Regions from separate parts of the Homo sapiens genome. Here region 1 is reported to be linked to region 2. Evidence: microRNA targets listed by miRTarBase, many of them from high-throughput screens and not tested one by one. Region 2 holds a microRNA gene; the other region holds the end of a gene's coding sequence.
What was found. Region 2 holds the annotated microRNA hsa-miR-3666 (CAGUGCAAGUGUAGAUGCCGA, at 3,238-3,258, shown strand). A microRNA usually pairs through its seed, bases 2 to 8, with sites in the 3' UTR of a target mRNA and lowers its output. Matches are read on the target gene's strand: a 7mer-m8 pairs with bases 2 to 8, a 7mer-A1 pairs with bases 2 to 7 and ends in A, and an 8mer does both.

Region 1 (7,122 bases), not on the chromosome of region 2:
ACTGATAGTCCTCAGTTCAGGTTTTCCTGGAAGCTGACCTTATGATGATGATGTGAGTACAAGTAGTTTATCTGGGAGGCAAAGGGAACCCCAGTAAGAAAATGTAGCCAAAAAATTAAGGGTTACAAAGCCAGCTACCACTGTGACGGACAGATGCTTGATCTGGTGAAGAAGCTCTAGGCAAAGTGTAAGTATACATGTAAGAGTTGGCACACCCCAGGCAGGAGCGGGGACCATATTTACAGACTCTGTGTGTCACTGATTGAAAGCTGCTTCCCAGGTCTTAACTTCCTGGCACTTCTGGCTGCCACATACTGGGGCAGGGCTGGCTTTTGACAAGAGCCCTCAGATATGTCAATGTGGGATGTACAGTCTCGGGGAACAAGTTACCAAGAGTGGCCTTTTATTTCCACTGTTCCTACCATGGCAAAATCATGTCAGTCATTGATGTTGGGTTCCCACTTACTTTCCAACCCTCCCCAAACCCAAAAGCCTGGGACACTGATACTCCACCAGCCAGAGGTCATGTCAGTTGATGACATGAATGACAGTATAGGGCAGGTGCAGCTCAGAGTGAGACAAATTCTTGCCAATCATTCTGACGGGGAAGGATGACTCTGGAACTAGCAAGAGAAGCACTGAAGGATGCCTTTCCTGACCCTCACATCCAACAAGGGCCTCCAAATCCTCGCCTTCCTGATCCATTTGTTGTTGTTGTTGTTGTTGAGATAGAGCCTTGCTTGGTCACCCAGGCTGGAGTGCAGTGGTGCAATCTCGGCTCACTGCAACCTCCACTTCTCAGGTTCAAACGATTCTCCTGCCTAGGCCTCCCGAGTAGCTGGGATTACAAATGTTTGCCACCACACCTCGCTAATTTTTGTATTTTTAGTAGAGATGCGGTTTCACCATGTTGGTCAGGCTGGTCTGGAACTCCTGACCTTAAAGTGATCCACCCGCCTTGGTCTCCTAGAGTGTTGGGATTACGGGTGTGAGCCACCCTGCCTGACCCCATCTCTTTTTTGATAACACCTTCTGGTAAGGCGGCTCCACTTATGGAGGAGAAGGAATCATTACACACAGCTGGAACGAGATGTGCTTCACAGTCCTCTTGGAAACTGCTTTAGAAACTTCTCACTGCCCCAGCTTCCTGTAGCACCTCCTGGAGGCTGGCCAGTGTCAACTAACTTCTGGAAAAGCAGTTAACCATCCCTATATTTGCAGCCAACAAGGTAACTCTAATTGTGTCAAAGGATGTCAAAAAAGCCTCCAAATATGTGAAAATAAAAATAAAATTCTTTTTGGAAAGAAAACATTTTGGGAGAGATGGAAAGGGAAGTGATTGTGAAATGGTAATATGGTAGCAACTCAATGATTACAAATTCTAAACTTGCAATACTGCCCTGAAGAAAACAGTTCATATCCATTTAGCTTGCTTGGTATACTACTACCTAGAATGGGCATCTTAAAAAAAAAAAGAAAGACTAATGACATTTAAGGCCACTATTAGAGTGAAGATCCCACTTACAGGGGCAGATACCTGCCACTCTTTGGACTTTCAGAGACCCTGTCTTCCACAAGTATCTCAAACTAAACGCAAAAGTTTTTTTTTTTTGAGATGGAGTTTCACTCTTGTCACCCAGGCTGGAGTGCAGTGGCACGATCTTGGCTCACTGCAACCTCTGTCCCAGGTTCAAGCGATTCTCGTGCCTCAGCCTCCCGAGTAGCTGGGACTACAGACGTGCACCACCACGCCCAACTAATTTTTGTATTTTTAGTAGAGATGGGGTTTTTACCATGTTGACCAGGCTGGTCTCGAACCCCTGGCCTCAGGTGATCCACCTGCCTCGGCCTCCCAAAGTGCTGGGATTACAGGCGTGAGCCACCATGCCCGGCCTTAAACACAAAAGTTTTAACATTTATTGAAAAATTACTGAGAAACTTTATACTCATTTAATTCAACCTTAATAATTAAGACACGCCGGCATGAGGGCCGGGCGTGGTGGCTCACGCCTGTAATCCCAACACTTTGGGAGGCCGAGGTGGGCGGATCACGAGGTCAGGAGTTCGAGACCAGCCTGGCTGACATGGTGAAACCCCATCTTACTAAAATACAAAAAATTAGCTGGGCATGGTGGTGTGCGCCTGTAGTCCCAGCTACTTGGGAGGCTGAGGCAGGGGAATCGCTTGAACCTGGGAGGCAGAGGTTGCAGTGAGCTGAGATCGTGCCACTGCACTCCAGCCTGGCAACACAGCAAGACCCCATCTCAAAAAATAATAATAATAATAATAAAGACAACTCCATGAGATAAGTGTTATTCTCCCACTTAGCAATGAAAATATCCAGATACAGAGAACACAATTAACTTACCAAGCTTCCTATGGTTAATTACTGGCAAACCTGATACTTAACCACCTAAGTGTAACTCCAGATGCTGGCTCTTCATTTTTCTATTGCTTCTAACATTAGCACCTTGCCTTCTGACCCTCTCCCTTTACTCTTCCACAAGGTATTTAGAGATCCAGTAATTCAAAAGTGATTGTCAGTCCTTTTTTAGTGTATACTTTAATTTTTAGGGTTTTTTGTTGTTGTTGTTTGTTTAGATAGGGTCTGGCTCTGTCACTCAGGCTGGAATGCAGTGGCACGATCACAGCTCACCGTAGCCTCGACCTTCTGGGTTTAAGTGATCCTTCCACCTCAGCTTCTCAAGTGATTGAGACCACAGACGTGCGCCATCATGCCCGGCTAATTTTCTAATTTTTGTAGAGACAGGGTCTCTGTATGTTACCCAGGCTGGTCTCAAACTACTGGGCTCAAGCGATCCTCCCACTTTGGACTCCTAAAGTTTTGGGATTAGGGGCATAAGCCATGGCGGCTGGCCTGTGTATATTTTTAAACAGCAATTTTAAAACTTCTTTAGAACTTATCTTGGCATTAGTTTTTTTCGAGACAGAGTCTCACTCTGTCGCCCGGGCTGGAGTGCAGTGGCACAATCTTGGCTCACTGCAACCTCCACATCCTGGGTTCAAGAGATTCTCGTGCCTCAGCCTCCAGAGTAGCTGGGATTACAGGCGTGCACCACCACACCCAGCTAATTTTTGTATTTTTTATTTTTATTTTTTTTGAGAGGGAATTTCGCTCTGTTGCCCAGGCTGGAGTGCAATGGCGTGATCTCGGCTCACTGCAACCTCCGCCTCCCAGGTTAAAGCGATTCTCCTGCCTCAGCCTCCCAAGTAGCTGGGATTACAGGCATGTGCCACCACGCTTGGCTAATTTTTTTTTTAGTAGAGATAGGGTTTCTCCTTGTTGGTCAGGCTGGTCTCGAACTCCCAACCTCAGGTGATCCGCCCACCTCGGCCTCCCAATTTTTAGTTTCTAAAATTACTTTTGATCTCTAAAATTGTAATCAAACCTACTAATATAAAAACCCAATTGAGATTCACCAACGAACTAGTCGCAAAATGTTTTATTTGTAATAAACTTAAAATCGTCCCTTCTGTTCACACGCTGGTCCTTTTCTCTCCCACTTCTTGCAAGGCCTTCAGAGCTCCTCCCCAAAACTAAGGAGGTGCTAAAGGATGTGAGAAAATGACAATCCAGAACATTTCTGAGTGGGCTTAGGTGTTCACTGAGTAAAAACAGGATTTTGGGGGAGGCAGTATAGGCAAAATGATGTTTCTTAGATGTTAGCTTATTTTTAAAAATTGTTTTTTGTAACCTGATCCAATAGCTATTCCATCACGCTTTTTTTTTTCTTTTGACAGTAGAGATGGGCACGGGGGAGGGTCTTGCGATGCTGCCCAAGCTGGTCTTGAACTGCTGGCCTTGAGTGATCCTCCTGCCTTGGCCTCTCAAAGTGCTCGGATTACAGTGTAAGCCACGGAACCCAGCCCCATCATGCCTTTAAGTGTTCAATGCACAGAATAGATAGAGGCCAATAGTCCATTTCAATCAGATTTTAAAAAAAGTAATGCAAAAGATGGGAGAATTTATTGCTGACTGTTACTTATTATGCAATAATTTACTTTAAAATACTTCAAATATAAACTGTGTAATGGATGTGTGCTGTGTAATTTAACTTCAATCTTGTTCTGGGGGTAAGTTAGTATTTGAAGCACCTCAATCAGGTGGCTAGGAAGATGCTTTAAACACTTATCTAAATATACGCCAGAGTGTTCATCAGCATAAGGGATATTAGTAATTTTTCACTGATGAATGCAGCCTGAAAAGTAGGTGGTTGTCTAGACTTTTAGAGGCAAAATGCATGAAATGAGGTGTAAGAATCTGGCAGATCCTGCAAAATAATGACTTTTTATAGTATCTCAGGTCTAGAGATCTCCTTGCCCCTGTACCTTCCCCCTCCAGCACTCCACACACGTTTATGACTGTGGCCTGATCCAACCAAGCAATTAGGTTTCTTAATTCTGCTTTCAGAATATCACTGCTTCTGCTTCACTGTGAACTTTTTAGTCAAGGTGTTTGTGGGGTTACTTAGGAGCAGAGAAAGAACTTCTCCAAGCTTTCCAGAAGCCCTGCTTGCTAATAAACTTGTCATATAGATAACTGTTTTAGATTTGCTTTTATAGTAACACACCACGAGGTGGTGCGGTTATGTAGGAGGACACATATAGCCTTACTTTCCTGTAATAGCTAGAGGTACCACCAAATGGACCTGTGATTGGTGACTAAATTGGCCTAGATAGTTTGCAATGGTGTAGGAAGGAAACTAAAAGCCCATTCACTCTCATTTCATACTGAGGGCCATATTTGATTCCTGAGCGCTCCCCTTAATGTAGGGTGAATACTGAAGACCTCCTTAAGGTCTGCAAGTAAATATAGATTTTTCCAGTGCTGGCCAAAAAGCAAGCCAGCCATTGTAAAGGTCAGGGTCATTCTCTGGCAGCGCTGCTCTTTAACACAATATAATTAAGAATTTTGCACCACTTCTAATTAAAACTTGATTACTTAGAAGGCTTTCCGTTTGCTAATGATGACTAAAGTTTAAAAACACACATGAAAAAGAAAAACAGCCAAAATACACCTACTGCTCTAAATTTTAAATAAGGCTATCCTATATGCTTAATCAACAGGAGGCTAGGAAAATGTCACTGAGTTAAATGAAGGACAATCTGAAGACTCAAGAATCAATCTGAGTGAAGTTATAACATATGAGAAAGCTAAAAGTAAAACTATGTCAAACATTTTATTTGGTGTTTCATGCTATGTTGATTTAAACAAATTAAACAAGTTTGTTGAACAGATTTCTTTTCTAATATAATGACTATGTGTACATGGACAACTGAAAACAGGGAAAACCCCCAAATTAATGTTTTCACAAATTACAAGCCATTACTAAAGACCATATGCCTGGATTAAAAAAAATAGTCCAATAGATGAAGTCTCTCATTCAACCTAGCAGTTCAACCAATTTCTCTTTTAATAAAAGCTGCACATTACAGTGGTATAAATTTATCTTTTAAACACTCCACATAAAAACATGTGCACCCTCTCCTTCTACATTTAATCATTAGTAGTCTCTAAAATGGTAAAATAAAACTGAATTTATATTAGCAAATGAAAGTGCAAGTTTGTACAGCTAGGCTCAGCAGCAAAAGTGAAGAATAAGAATGAAAGGTGAAAAGCTGACAGATGCCACGCAGAGCAAGGACTTCCATGAAGGTCCGTGTCCTGTGTGCCAAACACAGTCAACATTCCATCATTTTCTCATTGCTCTTAAACGAGCAAAACCAAATTCTTTTTCTATTTAAAGAAATATTAAATCTTTATTTTCCCCAACATAATTTGTGATCAGGTAAGGCAAAGATAAGTCCACCATCACTGGGGACAGCAGCAACATACAGACTTCAGAAATAGCCCTGAATCATCAGTAACATTCTATCGTGGTAACATCAGAAGGAATGCAGCTAACAAATTAAATTTGTAATGTTGTCACATTATTCTAATTTATTTGATTAGTTTATCTGGAAAAACTTTATAAATACATTATGTAAGAGGGCAGTAAATTATTTTCTTGCTTTGAAAAAATAATGTTTTTTCACATTTTAAAACATTTTAGTCTGCTTTTGCAAAAGGAGTTGCAAGAAAAATGTGACAGCTGGGTTTGCAGAATGTCCATGTACAAGCTGTATTTATAAGAACCTGGTAATCTGCCTATAATTTGCTTCTACAAATAGAGCTCTTTGCAATAATATTTTAAAAAAACAGGCTTAAACTCTTCTCCTATTCATTCTACTTGTAGAACAAAGAGGTACTTATTTTTCAAGTATTATAAAAGGTAAAAAATTTTTTTTGCCAATTTTACATGTTAAGCTTTTAAGACCAAAAAAATCATGCCTAGTCAGCCCATTTCTTTTATAACCAAATTCTCTTGTCTTTTAAAGAATGCAGAAAAATATTGATTGCTAAGAAGGAGCACACTGGAAAAAGCCATTTTAAAGTATTGAAGAATGAGACGTATTTCTTTTTTCCTATTGATGAAAATTATTAGAAAAGCTATCCAGTCTGTTGTCTTTAGCTAGTTTTAATAAATCTTTTCAAAATGATGGTCAAGAACTCTAGAAAACGGGTGGAGGGGATGCTCCTTTATAGCAGGAAAGGAATTCCATTAATTGTAGAAATTCTCATTAAATTTCAGCTTTGGTTCTTCAGAAGAAACACTCATATAACTTCTACATGAAGAGACAGAAAAAGAACAAGATTAATATGACATTTATCTAAAATCTTATTTCAAGAATACCATAGTAATACCTTAAATTTCTAAAACTTACTATACTGTTATATACACTTATATAAGAATAGGCAATTCTGTTAGGATTCACAGTCTTATATTTAAGTGAATTCTGTTACTCATAGGAAACATATGTTCTTTTCTTTACATCAGCTTAGGCCACAGCCTTCATTTTTCCAAGTGGCATACACAGATTGTACTTTTCTCGGTTAGGGGTTTAAACATTCATTTCTCTTGTATCCTCAGTATCTGATGCTTAGGGTTCTAAACATATGTTGGAGGTTAAATAAATGTTGATAAATCATCTGGAAGTTCTTTCCCTTCCTGTAAATCTGTAACATGAGTAGGAAGCTGCACTGGGCATGTTTCCATCAAC
Region 2 (7,122 bases):
GCTCTAAGACCCAAGTATATAAAGCAAACATTTTGTACTTTTTTTAGTTCTTTAAATATAAGATCATGATTATCACTAAGCAGTAAACAAGTGTAGAAAATCATTTTAAAAAGTGATTTCACAAGAAAATGTTATAGTGACTATGCCTTTTATTGCAGACCTGTATGTTCTACTTATCTTGCTTCCTGCATTTACACCCTAATCTCAGTGTATAACTGAAGCATTTTTGAAAATATGCAACATTTTTTCTTATATGGAATAAATATGTTTGTGTTCCCCAAGAGTTCATGGTGAAAAAAAAAAAAATCTTACGGAAACACAGCAATATGAAGCCTTAAGAATACAACACACAACTGTATTATGCTGGTAGAAAATTGTCTTACTGTTCATTTAAATTTTGGGGGAAAAAACCCTGGGAAACAATTTTTAAATGTAGTCTTGTTATTTAGGAATTGGTGACACTTTCTGTTAACTAACCTCTGGCTTACTCTCACATTCCATACCTCCTTCCCAGAGAGCATGAGTGAATGTTAATCCTCCTCACAGGTTCACAGCAGAACAAACCTGAGCTGAGCTTAGAGAGCAGACAGGTATAGTGGAAGTGCCTCCCCTGCACTCCAGCCACACTCCTTCAGCTTGACCTTATCCACCTTGCTATTTTAGTCCACAGTTTCTCTTCAACCAAGACTGACATTGTGACAAGATACATGGAGGTTTTGTTGTTATGATCAATAAGGAAGTATTAAAACAAACTGGTTTAATTTATCAAGGTATAGGCAAAACAAAGGTTTCTGATTGTTGAACCTAGGTATATAAACAAATAAACCTTTTGTTTATAATAAAATTAGTTTTTATCAGCAACACGACTTTAATTACTCTTCATATGTTTTACATGTATGTGTCTTATATTTTTTCTGCCTCACTGTGATCTTCAAGAAATAAAAGTAAATAATTTGAATGGATACAAAAATATATTTGTTGAATTCAGTATACCCAGGGCTATTATAAACTTTTTAGACTATTATATCATTCTAAATGATACTTGAGCCCACTTGGGTAAATATATAAATTCTTATTTAATTTTGTGAATTTCTTTTCAATATGCCATTTCACTTATATGCAATGATGAGAACATCTCTGAAATTGTTGCCTTACTTTGCCCATTGGTGAAATAGATACACTAAAGGATATTGAATTACTTGAAGATTACTTTCTTTAATTTTGGGAAGCATCAAAGACATTATGTATTACAAATTACAGAGTATATATTATTAAATGTTTTCATGTTCATTGGAGATGCTGCTTTACTAAATTACTTTTGGTGTATTAACATACCACTCATTAAAGAGATCTCTTTAAACATCGTATAGAAATAATAATGGTAGACTAATGCATATTCAAGGTTAGAGTGAGATCATTTGGAATGATTTATTTTTCACCATTTTAAAAATAAGATTAGGACAAATGTCTCCTAGTTAGAACACTGGACATGAAATGTCAATCTTGTTATTCTAATGATCAAAATCTTCAATGAAGTTCTTTATTACTAACAGCAAATCATCATTCTTCATAAATATTGATTTTCCACGGGAGATAATTTGCCATCTTTACCTAATTCATACCACATCCCAATGAAATAAAACATTGCTCACTAAAATACATCATAGAAACAACAAACTGTTCTAACAATGAAATAGAAAATTGCCTTTGTTCTCTTCAGAATTGCTTTTGGTTCATAGATTTGTAAGCTGTTCTTTTTAAAAAAATGGCATAAATAATATGACTTCTACTATAACTCTGTAAATGGTCTGGGGAAATATTTTTTGTAATAACAGGTAAGCTTAGAGACAGTGACATTTTCTGCCATTTGAAGAGTCTCTTTACATTACATAAATAATTTTCACACAACACGTAAGCAGCTTTAACTTTTATCTGTATGGTTTCAAGGCTTTCTGTTTTCCCAGTGCACAGAAACATCTGACTTCAGTGTAGTGCTTTTTAAGTGTAGCCTATGCCACTAAGATCGACATCACTTTACATTCTGTTTTGTGTCTTCTGTTTGTTTAGGCACCTTAACAATGAACACGCATTGGATGACCGAAGCACTGCTCAGTGTCGAGTGCAAATGCAGGTGGTGCAACAGTTAGAAATACAGGTTTGTTAAATGCTCACTTAATGGACTCTTCTTAGATTTCTGGTGTGTTACATTGAGTACTGAGCAGATTCTGGGTCTTTCAGCCTGCATTTTACTGTCTTAGCCATTCAATACTAATGGAGATACATGATATTTTAGATTGTTTTAAACAGTGGCAATTATTGATAACCCAGGAAGGATTGCTGTAGTTTAATGTACTTATCACTTATATTTTTATAACTTTTAGACCACATCATATGAATTTGAATATCCCAAAGTAGTCAGATCTAAGTTTTTCCCAATGCAGGTTAGACCAAACTCCCAATTAGATATGATTTTATTACAGAGAGAGTTTTTACATGAGCTAACCTTGATTTTTTTCCATGAGATTTTATATTGTGGCAAATGACCAGTCTTTACAATATCATGCCTGTAATATAACTAACACCCTGAAAGATAACCTTTTCTTTTCTTTTTCTAGTGTAATTTTAATTAAAGAACTTGCAAAAAAATCTTTATACTTTTCTTTAGCTAGATTAAAGGCAGATAATTTATATCACAGATGATAATACACACATGTTGTATCAAATGCGACTGTTTTAAGTTAAAAAAAATTCTATTAATGTTGAAACAGAATTTGGCCAGAAGTAAATAGAATCCATAGAACTAATCAGAAAGCAATTATGTCACCCAAAGTCTGACTCTTGTTATGTTTTACTAAGCCTTTAAGGCTTTCTCTAACATTTCATCTTAAAGATGATCTTTTCTCAATGAAACTAATACTTTGTTTCATTTAAAGATACGATTTTTCTTCATATTTTATTACATCTTGTTTCAAATTCGTGTCATTGCTTTTTTCAGAGAGCTTACTAAAAATATTTTGTTTTGACTTGTAAAATAATCAAGAACACAAAAAGCACCATCACTGTTAAAGTTTAAAAAGCTTTTTATAAACCTGTTTACCATTTATAAAAGGTAGACTAAAACATAAGAGTTCAGCTGATGATACAGTCTTCGGTGTGACCAATTACGCCTATTTTTTTTTTTTCCTTCTGCTGTGTCTGACTGATGGAAAAGTAAGGTCCGTCAGTTGTAATGAGACCCAGTGCAAGTGTAGATGCCGACTCCGTGGCAGAGTTCAGCGTTTCACACTGCCTGGTCTCTGTCACTCTATTGAATTAGATTGATGATGGCAGATTGCAGGGGGCACTAACTGGACCTCAGTGGGAATGCATGAAGTGTGTAGACAATCCTGGCAGGCACTTTGCTTTGAGAACCCTTCACCCCTTCACAGCTGTTGGCACTAGTCCATTGCTAACAGTGTCCACAGGACTTTAAAGAGACACCATGGGCCTTCTAATTTATGGTTTCAGTAACTTGTTACTGTCGAGGCAACTGTGACCTCAATTCTCTTATTGACAAAAAGATGAAGTGTTATTTGTTTTCTCTGACCTTTTAACATAAGAAAAGCTATAAAAGTTTTTCCCCCTCCATAGCTAAAGTTGCATTTCCTCCCAGATAAGTTCCTCCTGACGCAGACTTTTACATGCAGGAATCATTATTCTGAGGCAAGCTCAATGATAAGATGTATCACTGCAATAAAATAGCTGTATCAGTCATTTCTAAAACGCTTCTGATCTCACTCTTTCTTAACAGCTTTCTAAAGAACGCGAACGTCTTCAAGCAATGATGACCCACTTGCACATGCGACCCTCAGAGCCCAAACCATCTCCCAAACCTGTAAGTGCATATTGCTTTATAAACAGTAAATAGCTCTACCAATGTAACAGACTAAGAAAATGAACAATTTAGTGACAGTTAGAAAACAATGAGTGTGATGAAAAATACGGCAATAAAATGAAAGTAAAATGTAATCGCTTGTCAAATTGTATGTTTCTTTTAAAGTAATGCTATCTTTTACAAAATCTATCCAATCTACACCATGGGTGACACTAAACAAAGTACACCTATCAGTGCACAAATCACTGCCTTGGGGCTGAAGCCAGAGAGAATTTCTTTCTGTGATAGGTTTACAGATATTAAAAGGAAACCCTCTTTGAGCAACCTGAAAAGTAGTAACGTACAAATCACAAATAGAAATGTATGTGGTGTGCTGAAGAAGGCAGATCAATCATAAGATACATATAAATAGATTTTTATCAAATATTTTGTCATAAAGGTCATGGTATTTTTATAGCCAATTTTGTCCTATTTCTTTGGTTATTTCAGTTAAGATGTATTTCACATATTGATATGTTTTATTGTACATTATACATAATGTTAATTTAGAGAGCTTATCACAAAAAGAAGTGGGTGATTATAGAAAATTAAGACTAGTTTCCCTCAAAAATATATGAGATTTAAGCTCAACCTAATAATGTAGTCAGATACACAGACTGTTGAAAAGAATATACTTTATCTCATTCAGCTGATGTTTGCACAGAAACTTAGAGTAATCAACTGGGTAACTCTAGTTTAATGAAAGTTTGTGGGATACTTTTTAATAAGGCCCCTGTATAGCCTGATGATTAATGATTGCCAGTCTTGCCTCTCCCTCTATTTCTTTAGGTAAAAAACGAACATTTGGCTTTGTAGTTGGGGAGGAGACAGAAGACGACTATATTGTCTAATTTTCTCGTAATGTCTCGATATTTCTTATCAATTAATATCATTCAAAATTTACTTTTTTGGTAGAGATTATATTTAAACTCTGCTAAGCTATTTCTGCTTTTCCTTTGTACTGTATTTAAAGGTAGAGTACTGTAAAAACATTTTTATAGGAAGAAAAAAGACATGTATCTTTTTGAATCTGACATACTACTTTTTAAACTCTAAAATGTCTGAGTTTTTAATTAAAAAATAAACTTTTGAGGATATTTTTGATCATGTATTTATGACTATCTTTTCAATAAGATTTTTTCCCTCATTGCTTCTATAGTATAATGTAGATAATCACAAGACAGAATAATTGTCTCATAAATCCATCAGGAATCTGCAGCTTGTTCTTTTCCAATTAATTATTCAATCAGTAAATTTTTTAAAACTCCAGCAGCATGGTTACATCTACACTAATAAAGAATTTTCAGCCTATAATCCAAAACAGAACCTGAATGAATAATGTAATTGAAGTATTACATTACATAAACCACACATGAAAGAATTGCTAATTGCGTTTGATGGTGGGCAATTAATACAGAATCTTAGATGAGCGATTTAAAATGAAACCACAGTTTAAAGTTCCCTTTGGAACTAGCGATATCTGAAGTGAGGAACTGCACTATTGGCCTCAGATCGGTTTGAAAGAAGAGTGGTCAATACTCACAACCCTCAAAAAAACCCTAAAATTTATACACTGTACAAAAGAAGCTTCAAAATTGATATGATAGTAGAGATTTATGGTCTCATGTGCAGTGGCTCAGTTGAGACGGCCCACACATTTGATAAATATTAATAGCATGAATTTATTACCAAGGAGAAATGAGCTCTGTTGGTTCATCACTGCACCCTTAACAGCTATCAGTACATGAACACAAGGTGCAACCGCACTGTCTATTATATGACCCCATTTACTCTCTGAATGGTACTTCATTAAATGGTACCTTTTGGCCATGCTATGGATGGATGAAAATCAAAGTTATCAAGGCTGCGAGTCCTGAATAATGAGTTTCACCCAACCTTGACTATATTCAGATGAGTCGAGGTGGCTAAGTGCTCATCCTAGCTTTTACATGCTTCCCTTTAGTTAATAATAAATTCTATTTTATCAGTTTGTGATTGTACGCCTACAAACATGGTATGCTTATTATTACAGGATAGCAGAATAAGTTACCGTAACATTGTAAACATGAGTGGTTTGCATTGAAAAAGATGTATTTCTCCTGTTTTGATAACTTTTAATGTGTTGGTAAAATGTACAGAGTCCTGTCACATATTCATCAGGATAGATATTTCATTGATTTGCAATTTGGTATTTTCTGGGTTCTGAATGTGCCATTTTGTTCTGGTTTGCAATTCTAAAAGTGAATATGTAACCATCCAGCTGAGTTTTTTTTTTTTATGTATGGGGAAATACTTTTCTTTTCTTTTCATATTTTTAACATACAAGTATGTAATGCTGATATTTTCTAAATATAACATTGTTATGTATATGTTCTGATGTTGATATTTTAGAATATTTGCAAAGTCACATACAGATGCATATGGATGTTTCTGCGTTTCTCAAACTATGCAGAGGTGCTCTTGTACATCCCAGAGAAGCTTACACCAGTGGCTTTGTAAATGTATTAAATGCAGCATTTAGGAGCATTATCTCAGCTTTCATTTATGTACGTAACAAAGAATTCCCTACCCAGTCTGCTGGCTTAGAGTATGAACAGAATAACAGTTTGTGGTTTATTGGGAACAGATGCACTTGGGGATGCCTTCAGGGTGCCAGTCGTTATTATTAGACTGCTAATGTGCTTCTTCTGGCTGCTGCCCAAGAAAGAAGAACAATTAGCTGGCATATGTTAATTTTTGTTTCCCTAACAAATCTCTCTACTGACTAAATGTGTAAAACAAATCCACAAAGAAAGATCAATCAATGCTGTACACATCATTTTCTCCCCATTAAAAAAAGGTTTATCTTAAGAAGTGTATTTGGGATTTAAAAAGACAGGTGTTACTAAATTATAAACAAAAGCTGAATATTCTCTATTTAGCCACTCAGCAGTTACTTTATAGAGAAACAGAACAATTAGAATTAGTTTTCTTGCTTGGTTGTATAGCCTACTGTATAAAGTAAAAAGGACCACAGATTACCTCTTGTGAATACCATTTAAATGTATGGCAGAAATCTTTTTATGTGCTGCCCTGCGTAAAAATTTTGCTAATTGGATGCTATTTATGACAAAAGATGTGTGGTAAATATGACAGAGGTGATATGAGTTTTTTGATAATGAAGAACAGGGCCTTTCTGAGGGGAGTAATGAAGGGCACACTGTTAAACA

Region 1: miRTarBase lists MAP7 as a target of hsa-miR-3666. Seed matches in the 3' UTR shown: 7mer-m8 at 5,578-5,584.

What each region holds. Positions count from the first base shown.
Region 1 is chr6:136,337,552-136,344,673 of GRCh38, forward strand. It overlaps MAP7 (microtubule associated protein 7), which reads right to left. Exons shown (of 18, transcript NM_003980.6): 18 at 5,183-6,687. The coding sequence ends at 6,677. Among named protein-coding and RNA genes, the nearest start is that of BCLAF1, 51 kb to the left of the region's middle.
Region 2 is chr7:114,650,136-114,657,257 of GRCh38, forward strand. It overlaps MIR3666 (microRNA 3666), which reads left to right and starts at 3,210; the gene lies at 3,210-3,320. FOXP2 (forkhead box P2) reads left to right here. Exons shown (of 17, transcript NM_014491.4): 9 at 2,068-2,155; 10 at 3,791-3,874. RefSeq lists an enhancer at 4,919-6,183.